Regions from separate parts of the Homo sapiens genome. Here region 1 is linked to region 2. Evidence: fine-mapped expression QTL. A gene starts in region 2. The other region holds a variant in brackets. All regions are shown on one strand. Distances are from middle to middle. Region 1 overlaps TIAM2 (TIAM Rac1 associated GEF 2). Region 2 holds the start of TIAM2 (TIAM Rac1 associated GEF 2).

Region 1 (5,371 bases), 230 kb after region 2:
TCGCCATTTCTTGCAACTGGCCCTTCCCGTCAGCTGGGCTGATTCCTCCTGCCAAGTGGGTCCTTGGACAGAGGCAAACTAAAAAGTGGGCAGTGGGGCTGTTGGCATGGTCTGTGCTGTGGGCTAACTGGGGCCAAAGAGAAATTGCCAGCAACAGGAAGTTGCCTGATGAGTCCTCAGCTGGCTGTGCCTTTGCCAGGCAGGCTTTTAAAACTCAGACATGGGGTGTTGAGTTATTGAACGAGACTTTGGCTGGGGCTCAGAGTCTGCCTGCAGCTGTGGCAGAGGGCCTGTGTTTTCTCTATTAAACATGGAATACACGTATGTCTAGGAGCAGAGTATCATGCAAGGCAGGGGGACTTGAGCCTGGCGAGGCTGGTCTGGAGGCCTGGCGGGCTGCACAGTAAGAACCCCAGGAGCCCTGGGCCAGCCTGGCCCCACCAGTGCTTGTGTCTCCTGATCCTGATCTGGAAAGTAAGGATGATGGCACCTAGCACACAGTGAGGTTGGAAGGATGCAGGGAGGTCACCAATTGCCCTTCTTCCCCTTTCCTTTCTGTCTTTGGATCACTGAGGCACTTTCGTCAGCACAACTGGCTTCCCAGCCTCTTTTTTTTTGGCAGAGAAGAGTTTAATGAAAAAATAGGGATTTGCATTACAAACTAGGGACAAAAAGAAGACATCGTTTTAAACTTGAAGTTATAGAAAATAATCAAGCGTGTCTTACCTCTTTTTAAAATTATTATTATACTTTAAGTTCTGGGATACATGTGCAGAATGTGCAGGTTTGTTACATAGGTATACATGTGCCACGCTGGTTTGCTGCACCCATCAACCCATCATCTACCTTAGGTATTTCTCCTGACGCTATCCGTCTCCTAGCTCCCCACCTCCACTACAGGCCCCGGTGTGTGATGTTCCCCTCCCTGTGTCCATGGTTCTCATTGTTCAGCTTCCACTTACGAGACATGTGGTGTTTGGTTCTTTCCCCTGCTGTTTTCTGTGCCACAGTACTTTCCTACCTGCCTTCCTCTGTCCCTGCTTTCTTCTTTTCCAGACTTTTCTCTTTCATCTTGTTTTTTTTTTTTTTTGAAAAAAAAAAAAACAAAAAAAAACACAAGTTATTATTCAGAGTCATCTTCAGAATCACAAAATAAAGAAGTAAAAAAGAGAAGTTTTAGAGAGCAGCGCTGTGAGAGCTGCAGTGTGAATCACTGCGCTGGGGTGGGCTGGAGGATCAGGGCCTGTCAGGTGGAATGCTGGCTCTGAAATTAACTTGCTGAAGAGATAATGACACTCCCGTTCCTCATCCTGCTGGGACAGTGATGCACAGGAAAGTGACTTGGAGACTACTCAGAGCTGAGGCCACACAAAGATTTGACTGAGCAGAGATGCTGATCTTCACCTAATGCTTTATTTGCCACGTTTATTTCTGATACAGGCTTCTCCTTTTTCTCTCCATTGAAACAGCGGGTGCCATGGTTTTGCTCTCATCCTGTCTGAGATGACACTTGAAGTGGGATATGTTTGACCTTTTCAAGGCAAACAGAAAGCCAAGTTCAAGGAGTCATCAGCCAGCTCCCTGCAACTTAGGTGGTCGTAAGGGACCTCTTGCCAGAGCTGCTTGAGGTCTCCCCTTTAATTTTGTCCACCTGGATGACAGTGAAGATGGGGTTGAACGGCAAGTGTCCCATGTCTGTCCTCTTTCTTCCATCTTCCCTCTCCATGCCCCTCAGCCCTCTATTTCCAGATCTTTATTTCCTTTCTGGGCTTCTGAATTAGAGATGGAGCTATGGAGACCTTGATATAATTTTGCTTTCTGTGGGAGAAGAAAGCAGGAAGTTTGATTTCTCAGGCCAAACTAGCCTCAGTGTAAATACCATTTGCAGGTTCTTGCCTATTCTTCTTCTTATTTATTTATTTATTTTTGTTTTTTTGAGAGGGAGTCTCACTTTGTTGCCCAGGCTGGAGTGCAGTGGCGCGATCTTGGTTCACTGTAGCCTCTGCCTCCCGGGTTCAAGCAATTCTTATGCCTCAGCCTCCTCAGTACCTGGGACCACAGGTGCACGCCACCATGCCCAGCTAATTTTTGTATTTTTACTAGAGACGGGGTTTCACTATGTTAGCCAGGCTGGTCTCAAACTCCTGACCTCAGGTGATCCACACTCTTCAGCCTCCCAAAGTGTTGGGATTACAGGCGTGAGCCACCACACCCGGCCTGTTCTTGCCTATTCTTTGGGGAAGCCACCTCGACATGGGGTACACTCGGAGTAAGAACACATGGGTTGGGTGGGCGTGGCTCACGCCTGTAGTCCCAGCACTTTGGGAGGTTGAGGCTGGTGGATCACTTGAGGCCAGGAGCTCAAGACCAGCCTGGCCAACATGGTGTGACCCTATCTCTACTAAAAATACAAAAATTAGATAGGCATTGTGGCTCGTTCCTGTAATCCCAGCTACTCGGGAGGCTGAGGCATGAGAACTGCTTAAGCCCAGGAGGCAGAGGTTGCAGTGAGCCAAGACTGCACCACTGTACTCCAACCTGGATGACAGAGCAAGACTCTGTTTCAAAAACAAAAAACAAACAAAAAAAAAAAACACAAAAAAAACCATGGGTTTTTTGCCCTAAGTCTTACACTGAGGAGCCGTTTCTTCATCCTTGGGTAAGTTGTCAAACTTCCCTATCTGTGAAACTCAAGGGTCCGTCTGACCAGCTGTCCTGCCCTGATGTCTCTCCCTGTCTGTCTTTCTGCCTGAATGCCTGATCCAAAGCAGCTTTCTGCTAGATATCCCTTTTTATCCCCATGAATATGGAGAGCTGCTTAGAAGAAGAATCTTAGCAGAACCCTATTAGAATTTGCTTCGGTCGTTTATTGTCCTTCATGCATTTCATTGAAGCTAAAACCTGTAAGATTTTTGGAGGCTTCTCAGGTAATGGTATGCGAAGGTCAGGATGGTTAGATACCGTATTTCCAGATGCTCTCTGCTCTTTTATGCACTTACGTTATTTAGGAACTTATTTCAAGCAGACCATTTGAGAATCTGAGGAAAGCTATGGGTCCCCAGAAGATTGCTTATGCACATACGTTAGAAATTGCAGACAATTCCAGGGAGCTCCCCAGTCTTACGATGTTTATTCACAGCTTTCCCTGTTAGGAATTTATGAACCGTCAGTTTGTGATCCTTACTTTGAGTAAACATCTGAATAGCCTAGCCTGTGTCTTAATATTA[T/C]TGATATTGCAGAATCAGTTATCAAGTACCTGCAATATGAACAGCACTGTGTTTATATAGTCAAGTGATATTTTGAACTTTGTTTTTATCTTAGTCTAATTGCTTGGGTGAGATTAGCTATTAATGCTTTATTTTTTTAATGTGCTAAGAGATGTTGAGGAACGTTAAATAAATAACAACCCCTAGATGGCAAATAAATTATTAGGTTGAGACCAGAATAGATTATATTGATGATGGTGGTTAGACATCCCCAGATTTTTTTTTCTTTTTTTTTTTTTTTTTACTCTGCACTTCAATGGATGCAAACCCAGGTTGTTAAACACCAATCGCAGCATTACGTGCTGGGATGTTTTGGCATTTTGAAAGTTTTATTTTCTATCATTAGTGAACAAAATGGGTTTTTTTTTGGAGTAAGAATTTTAACATTTTGATCCCAAACCAAACTTTTATGGATCTCTTTAGTAAAATAAATAGCTGTCTGATGGACTAGGAGGGGTGTTTTTTATGCTCAGCGTAAGGGACGCTCAGGTGGCTGTGGCTCCTGTGTTCCCCGGCAAGGGCGTTGCCAGTGAATTTCACCCTTCCCCTTTCCATGTCAGCAAATTAGCTAAGCCCTTGTTGTCGTTCGCCCTTTTTCTTTTAAAGAAGTAATAGGCACAATTACTATCTAATTTTGGCTTGCCACTGTGTGGGTGCCTGGAATCTCATCCGATCTTTAATATTTACCCAGGGGGGTGGGTGTAGTGTCGCATTATTCATTCACTCATTAAATCCCCTTCACCGAGGCCTGCTCAGATGCTTGCCATTGTTCAAAGTTCTGAAATCGTCACCTGGCTGCCTTCTGTCAATATTCTTGCGTAGAGATTGTAGTCCAATGAAAACCTTGTACTGAGTGAAAGAAGATGTGTTTGAGTTTCAAGGCATTTTCTGTGCCTTTCATGACTCATAGCAGATTCTCACCTTGTGATAAAGTTCCGGCTCCACAGTGGTGGCTGCTTTTGCTTTTGCAAAAGTAAGTTGTGAGAAATTGTTCTGAGTCATTTTGCAATTTCCTCTATAGACTCAGCTAAGAGTAGATGTGTGTGTCATGAGTAGATGTGTCTGGAGTTGAGGGAGGAGGGGTCATGGAAAAACTCTGCCTGGAAGTGCTTCATCCAGGTACACATGATGGTATTTTCACCATCTCAAACACTAGCTTCTAACTGCTGAAGGTTAAGATGGGATCATTCGTTTTGTAAATCCGTCTCCTGCTGTCTTGATAATAACATGAAGAAAAGGGCAAGAAAAACATGGATGTGTCATTAGTATGGAAGGAAGGAGGAGAATGGAGGTTTGTTTTAAAGGCACCCCCAATTCTCTTTCCCTCTTTCATCCTTTCGTTGGTTCTTGCCCCTTCCACACCCCGACTGTGTTTGTTCAGCCTCCAGCGCATGCTGCCGCCTCTGCTATTCACCTGCCTTTGCGCTCTCTCATTCTTTGCTGCCACCTGAGTCCTCTGGTGTTTTCAGAAAACAGCTGGCAGAGGAGGAGGCTCTGAGATGTGCAGTTGCTTAGAAGGTTCTGGCCTGGCATCTGCACAGCGGGGATTTCATCACCAACTGCTCAGAAACCACAAATGCTGCATGCCTGGAGGAGTCCTGCCATCTTCCTACCTTGCATGCCACTCTCAGCTGGTTTTGGGATTTTCTATTTATTTGTTTGTTTGTTTGTTTGAGATGGGTCTCGCTCTGTCACCCAAGCTGGAGTGAAATGGTGCGATCTTGGCTGACTGCAACCTTTGCCTTCCAGGTTCAAGCAGTTCTCCCACCTCAGCCTCGCATGTAGCTGGGATTACAGGCATGCACAACTGCACACAGCTAATTTTTGTATTTTTGGTAGAGATGGGGTTTTGACATGTTGTCCAGGCTTGTCTCGAACTCCTGACTTCAGATGATCCACCCACCTCGGCCTCCCAAAGTGCTGGGATTACAGGCATGAGCCAATGCACTCAGCTGGGATTTTTAAGAGTTTATTCCCTTCTTGGTTCATTCAGGCATAGATAAAGGGCAGTCTGAGGGCCCGGGTGACACACCCATCAGGACAGGTTGGTGCTCTGCCTTCCTCTCATTTGAGCACCGAGGTCTTGAATTTGGGGCTTATACAGA
Region 2 (5,371 bases):
GGATGGTGTCTCACAAGAGGAGAGGAATTAGAGCCATCTGGGTTCTATATATTTTTTCAAGTTTGTACAACAAACATGTTACTTTTATAATCAGAAAAATATTTTAAAATAGTGCGAAAAATGCAATAAAAGAAGCAAGAAAAATAAACACATACCAGCACCCCCCCACCCCCCGTCTCAGTGTGGTAGGTGTGAGTCAGAAGTAAGAAGTAAATAAGTGTTGGCCGGGCGCCATGGCTCACACCCTAATCCCAACACTTTGGGAGGCTGTGGGCAGATCACTAGAGGTCAGGGGTTCGAGACCAGCCTGGCCAACATGGTGAAACTCCGTGTCTACTAACAGTACAGAAATTATCTGGGTGTGGCGGTGCATGCCTGTAGTCCCAGCTACTTGGGAGGCTGAGGCAGGATCACTTGAACCCGGGAGGTGGAGGTTGAGCGAGCTGAGATCGTGCCGCTGCACTCCAGCCTGGGCGACAGAGACAGACTCCATCTCAAAACAAAGCAAGCACCGCCCCCCCCCACCCCACCCACAAAACAGTAAATAAATGTCAAGGAAGAAAAGGTCTTTGGAGGTGATGCTTGAATTGAGCATGGAAGAGTGAGTGGAGTGGGAAGATATTTTCCTAGGCAGAGCCAAGTGCGCAAAGATGCAGACAAGACCAGGGGAGGGCCTACAGAGTGGGAGGGGCCAGTCACTACTAGTTCGGTGTGTACAGAGCCTGTGGTGGTTGAGGGTGGAGAGCAGGTCTGTCCGATCCCCGCAAAGCCTGGAGGCTTCCTTTTGATACTGGGTGTGTTGTGGGAAAGCTGATTTCATTTGTCTTTTTGACTCACAGTTCTCCACGGATCTCCCGTTACGGAGACTGGGTCGTATTCACGCACTGCACCTAACTGACCAGGGCCCTGGCTGCTGTGCTCTGAACTCCAGCACTGGGATTGTGCCCAACGCCACCCTTCCCACCTGGCCGCTCCCAGCCAAGGACTGGTGGCGGCATGGACACGAAGGCAGGCAGGTTCCGGGGAGAATCGGGATCCCCATGATGCGTAATTTTGGCTGAAGGGCTCACGGATGATCTTGCTGAGCTTTTCTTAGACTGCAGGGAGGCCGGGATGGGTGCTTCCCTCCCTCCTTCACTTGGGCTCTGATTTGCAGAAGGTCCGGCCCTCTCCAGCTCTCACGGCTCCCTCCTCATTTAGTTCCACGGCCATTTCCCCCAAGAAAACCCTCCGCATCTAGTCCTGAGTGGGCGCTGCTTCTCGTAGGACCCACCCTAACACATGGCCTGCATCTACCTTCCCTTCCCTCTCCTCTCCAGGGTGCAGCCTTTTTCAAGGCGAGGAGAGTGATTCCAGGCAGCTTTCATTCCTGGGTCTCCTTAGCTCCCTCGCCCTTCCCAGCATCTGGGCCCACTGGGCCACTCAGGCTTTTCTAATAAAAATCGCAGCTTTGGCCCAGTGCGGTGGCTCACGCCTGTAAGCCCAGCACTTTGGGAGGCCGAGGCGGGTGGATCACCTGAGGTCGGGAGTTCGAGACCAGCCTGACTAACATGATGAAACCCCCATCTCTACTAAAAATACAAAATTAGCCGGGCGTGGTGGCGCGTGCCTGTAGTCCCAGCTACTCGGGAGGCTGAGGCAGGAGAATCGCTTCAACCCAGGAGGCGGAGGTTGCGGTGAGCCGAGATCACGCCATTGCACTCCAGCCTGGGCAACAAGAGCGAAACTCAGTCTGAAAAAATAATAATAAAAATCGCAGCTTCTCCACCTGGAAAGTCCCAATTCGACTGGGTCTTGGAGTGCCGACTCGATTGCCATCTCCGCTGCGAAGCCATCTCCTCTCAGAAGGGGAAGGAGATGGAAAGTCTCTGCGGCCGCTGACCTCAGTTTTGCGTGCCTTTCCTCGGTGGGACCCGGGAAGAGCCGTCTTTAAATTCCTTGGGGAAGGGACGGGGTCGCACTGGCGCATCGCATCCCCGGTAGCGGGCAGAGCCCCCAGCTCACAGTGAGCGCGTGCTCGATGTTTCTTGAATTGTTTTATTTGTGTTGTTCCAAAGAAAGCGCGAGGGACATGGTCCGGGACCAGCCGGGAGCTGGCGCGGGGGTCCTGGGCCTGACGCTGGGCGGGGCTGGGGCGTGTCCGGGGCGGGGCGGGGCGGGAGGTGCGGTCGCGGCTCGGGCCTGGCAGGCGCTGCGCGCGGGGCTGGGGCAGCGGTAACCGTAACTGTGGCCGCGGCCGCCGCAGGCGCACAGCGCGCGTCCAAGTGGAGAACAAAGTGACCCCCAGAACTTCTCCAACTCCTCCCGGCGTTCCCGCGAGGGCCACGCGCCGAGGGTAGCGGAGGGCGGCGCGCGACCGGCCCCACCGAGCCCGGCGCGCGACCCGAGGTAAGGGGCGCCCGGGTGAGGGCGCAGGAGGGCGACGACCCGCGCTGGTTGGCGGCGGCTCCAGGTCCCCTGCGGGCGGGGCGGCGCGCGGCCGGCGGTCCCCTCCCTTCCCCTTTGTTGGCCGCCCCTCTCTGCCCCCGCTTTCCTGGGAGTCCCGCGGAAGGTCGCGGCTGCGGGGCGCGGCCTGGCACCCTCTCCCCGGAGGGCGGCAGCGTCCGGGCACAGCCTGGCACGGGGGACGAAGCACTTTCCAGAAGGCTCTGAAACTAGGTCCCCTGGTCCCCTCGCGCTGCGCGACACGCCAGGACCCACTTTCAGCCCCGGTCCCATCCCGGATGGGAGGAGGCGGCGCCCCGGCCTCCTGATACCGAGGTTCTCGCCCAAAGCCGAGCCGTGGGTGCCCGGAGGGGAGCGCCCGCTGCGCCCACGCCCGCCCGGCGACCTCGGAGCCTCAGAAAGGCGCTGCGGCGAAGCAGGATCCCAGGCGGTCGGCTCAGCGAGTGTAGACCGTGCGGTCCCTGCTCAGCCCCTCCGGCCTTTCCGAGCGCGGGAGCCATCCCGGACGGGCGCGGCTCCTGGGGGGGCTGAGGTGCCAAGTTTCTGTGAAAGCCGACACGTTGTGCCCCTAATGGATCCTATTTACCAAAAACAGTTCAGAAAGAAAAGAGTCCATTCTTCCAGCCATTCGTTGCTGACAGCCGCTGGAAAGGTCTGGGAGTAACATTGCACGAGGTATTTCTATCTTTAAGGAGCGGCGAAATTTAATATTGATGAGCTTGCATGCCGTTTTTTTAAAATAGACAAATAGGTTAACTTTATTTAAAGAGGGAGAAGGCTGCTTGATTCCAAAGATAATTTCATTCAGGGGGAGGTTTTCCTGCTTTTCTCTGCAGAATTCAGGCAAGAGGCCACTTGGTGACACTCCTCAGCCTCCTTGGGTAATGGTGAGACCTTTATTTACTATGCGATGAAGGGCCTGGGATTCTCTTCTCATGGTTATTCACACATTCTACCTTTTGCTCCCCAAATGATGCTGACCACCTTATTTTAACAGACAACACCGGCTATCTCCAGTTCTCTTTCCAATAGATTTAAGCCAGAGTGTCTCTAAAATCTTACCAAGTTTCGTACAGGTGCGGATCATATGCTATAAATGTTTCAGTCCTAGGCTCTGGATAAAAAAGTGTCCATGGTTTTATAATTTGGGCTTAACCAGTAGAACTTGTGTGTATACACTCTTAGAAGTATTTCCTGATGTGCTTAAGATTGTTATGTTTTAAAAATATAGTATCATGATTGGTGCAGTTTTGTAAGCAAACTTTTGTTCCACCGGATTTTACCTGCTCACTTTATAGGAAAATAAAACTTGTTGCTTTAGGGTGTCAGAGGTTTTTGTGTTGGGTAAATGTAAAAGAACATGGCAAGGTATAACTGAAGAAGAGTTTATTATTTACTGTGGCAAAACACGCCCCTAATGACCTCAGAATCAGCTTTCAACACCTTCACATACCATACTAAGATGCTTCATAATGTGGCACCTGCCTGCCTTTCCAGTTCCATCTACTGACTTTCCCCAGGCCTCCTGGCTCTCCCCCGCTTGCACACTGCCTGCTCTAGACACACCAAGCTACTCAGAAGTTGTTATTTCCAGACCATTGTTTGGAATGAATGAAATTCTGCTTACACTGTTCTTACTCCTCTTGCCCATCTGTCAATTACCCACGCATTCTTAATGTGTCAGTCAAATACCTTCTCTAGGAAGCTTTTCTTCCTTATCCGTAGGCGAAGTTAAGCTCCTCCTCCTCCAGTAGTCAGTGCTTCTACTAGAACACATTTTTGTATATACCTCTGGCACTGCCACCTTGCACAGTTGTTCAGGCTGTTCACTACACAAGGTCATCTTGTCCAACAGGCAATTGGAGGCTGAAATCCGATTCACACTCCACTTGCCAAGCCTCTAGTGCGCTCCTCTCCATTGGAGAGGATACATTTGGCAATTTAACCAAAAGTACAGTATGGGTTAGTAGTGACCCTAAGCCTATCCCCACTACTGTACTTAGCATCCATCACTTCAACTGATGTAATAGGAGCTCAGTTAAGGTTCCTAGGTTCCGTGAACGAGTGAAGAAAGAATGGATTTTTTTTTTTTTTTTTTTTTTTTTTTTTGAGACAGGATCTCCCTTTGTTGACCAGGCTGGAGTGCAGTGATATGATCTCAGCTCACCGCAGCCTCAGCCTCCCCAGCTCAATTGATCTTCCTTCTCTGCCTTCCAAGTAGCTGGACTACAGACGCGTGCCACCACACCTGGCTAATTAAAAACATTTTGTAGAGAGGGGGTTTCGCCATGTTGCCCAGGCTGGTCTCAAACACCTGAGCTCAAGTGATCCACCCTCCTCAGCCTCCCAAAGTGCTGGGATTGTAGGCATGAGCCACCGTGTCCGGCCAGAAAAGATTACTTCTCACGAACTCTAGAAAGAAGTAAGAGTTTGGGGGCAGATTTTTTTTGTATAAGTCAGTATACAGAAATCTGCTTCAGTTTGCTTTATCTTATGTCTGGGCTGTTCAAATGATGCTTAGACAGATGTCTTCTCCTTGATTACAGGGAAGAATCTGCGAGTGTGAATTCATGGGTGGGCGTCAGGGATTTGTGTCAACATGTGGTGCTTTGTCAGCTGATGACTTTTCTAGCCACTCAGGTTTACGTGTCTAATCGTGATTTGCTAAGAGAGATAAGGGGGCAAGAAACTTGCAAGTAAGGCCCTAAAGAGCTTTGCTCGCATAAACATGTGCTAATAAATTGCATTGGAGTGCCGTTTTGTATATAAGAATTTAAGCCATCCTAAAGTGAGATGTCACAGAATTAAACTAAGAAAGTAAGAAGGGTTTGAGTCTGATTTATTTAGGATCTCCAATGAGATCAGTATTTAATATCACAGTTTTATGCATGAAAAATGCAGTTTTCATTGGGAAGGGGCCATTTGC

The links. PIP is the estimated chance that this variant, and not a neighbour inherited with it, causes the effect.
Region 1: its variant is fine-mapped to the expression of TIAM2 in whole blood (INTERVAL, PIP above 0.99).

The regions. Positions count from the first base shown.
Region 1 is chr6:155,220,036-155,225,406 of GRCh38, forward strand. All of the region lies in intron 15 of TIAM2 (TIAM Rac1 associated GEF 2), which reads left to right. Among named protein-coding and RNA genes, the nearest start is that of CLDN20, 41 kb to the right of the region's middle. RefSeq lists enhancers at 410-909, 3,719-4,918. The variant T/C (reference allele first, on the strand shown) is at 3,228.
Region 2 is chr6:154,993,105-154,998,475 of GRCh38, forward strand. TIAM2 (TIAM Rac1 associated GEF 2) reads left to right here and starts at 2,211. Exons shown (of 27, transcript NM_012454.4): 1 at 2,211-2,388. RefSeq lists enhancers at 2,105-2,712, 2,713-3,318 and silencers at 2,159-2,298, 2,389-2,468.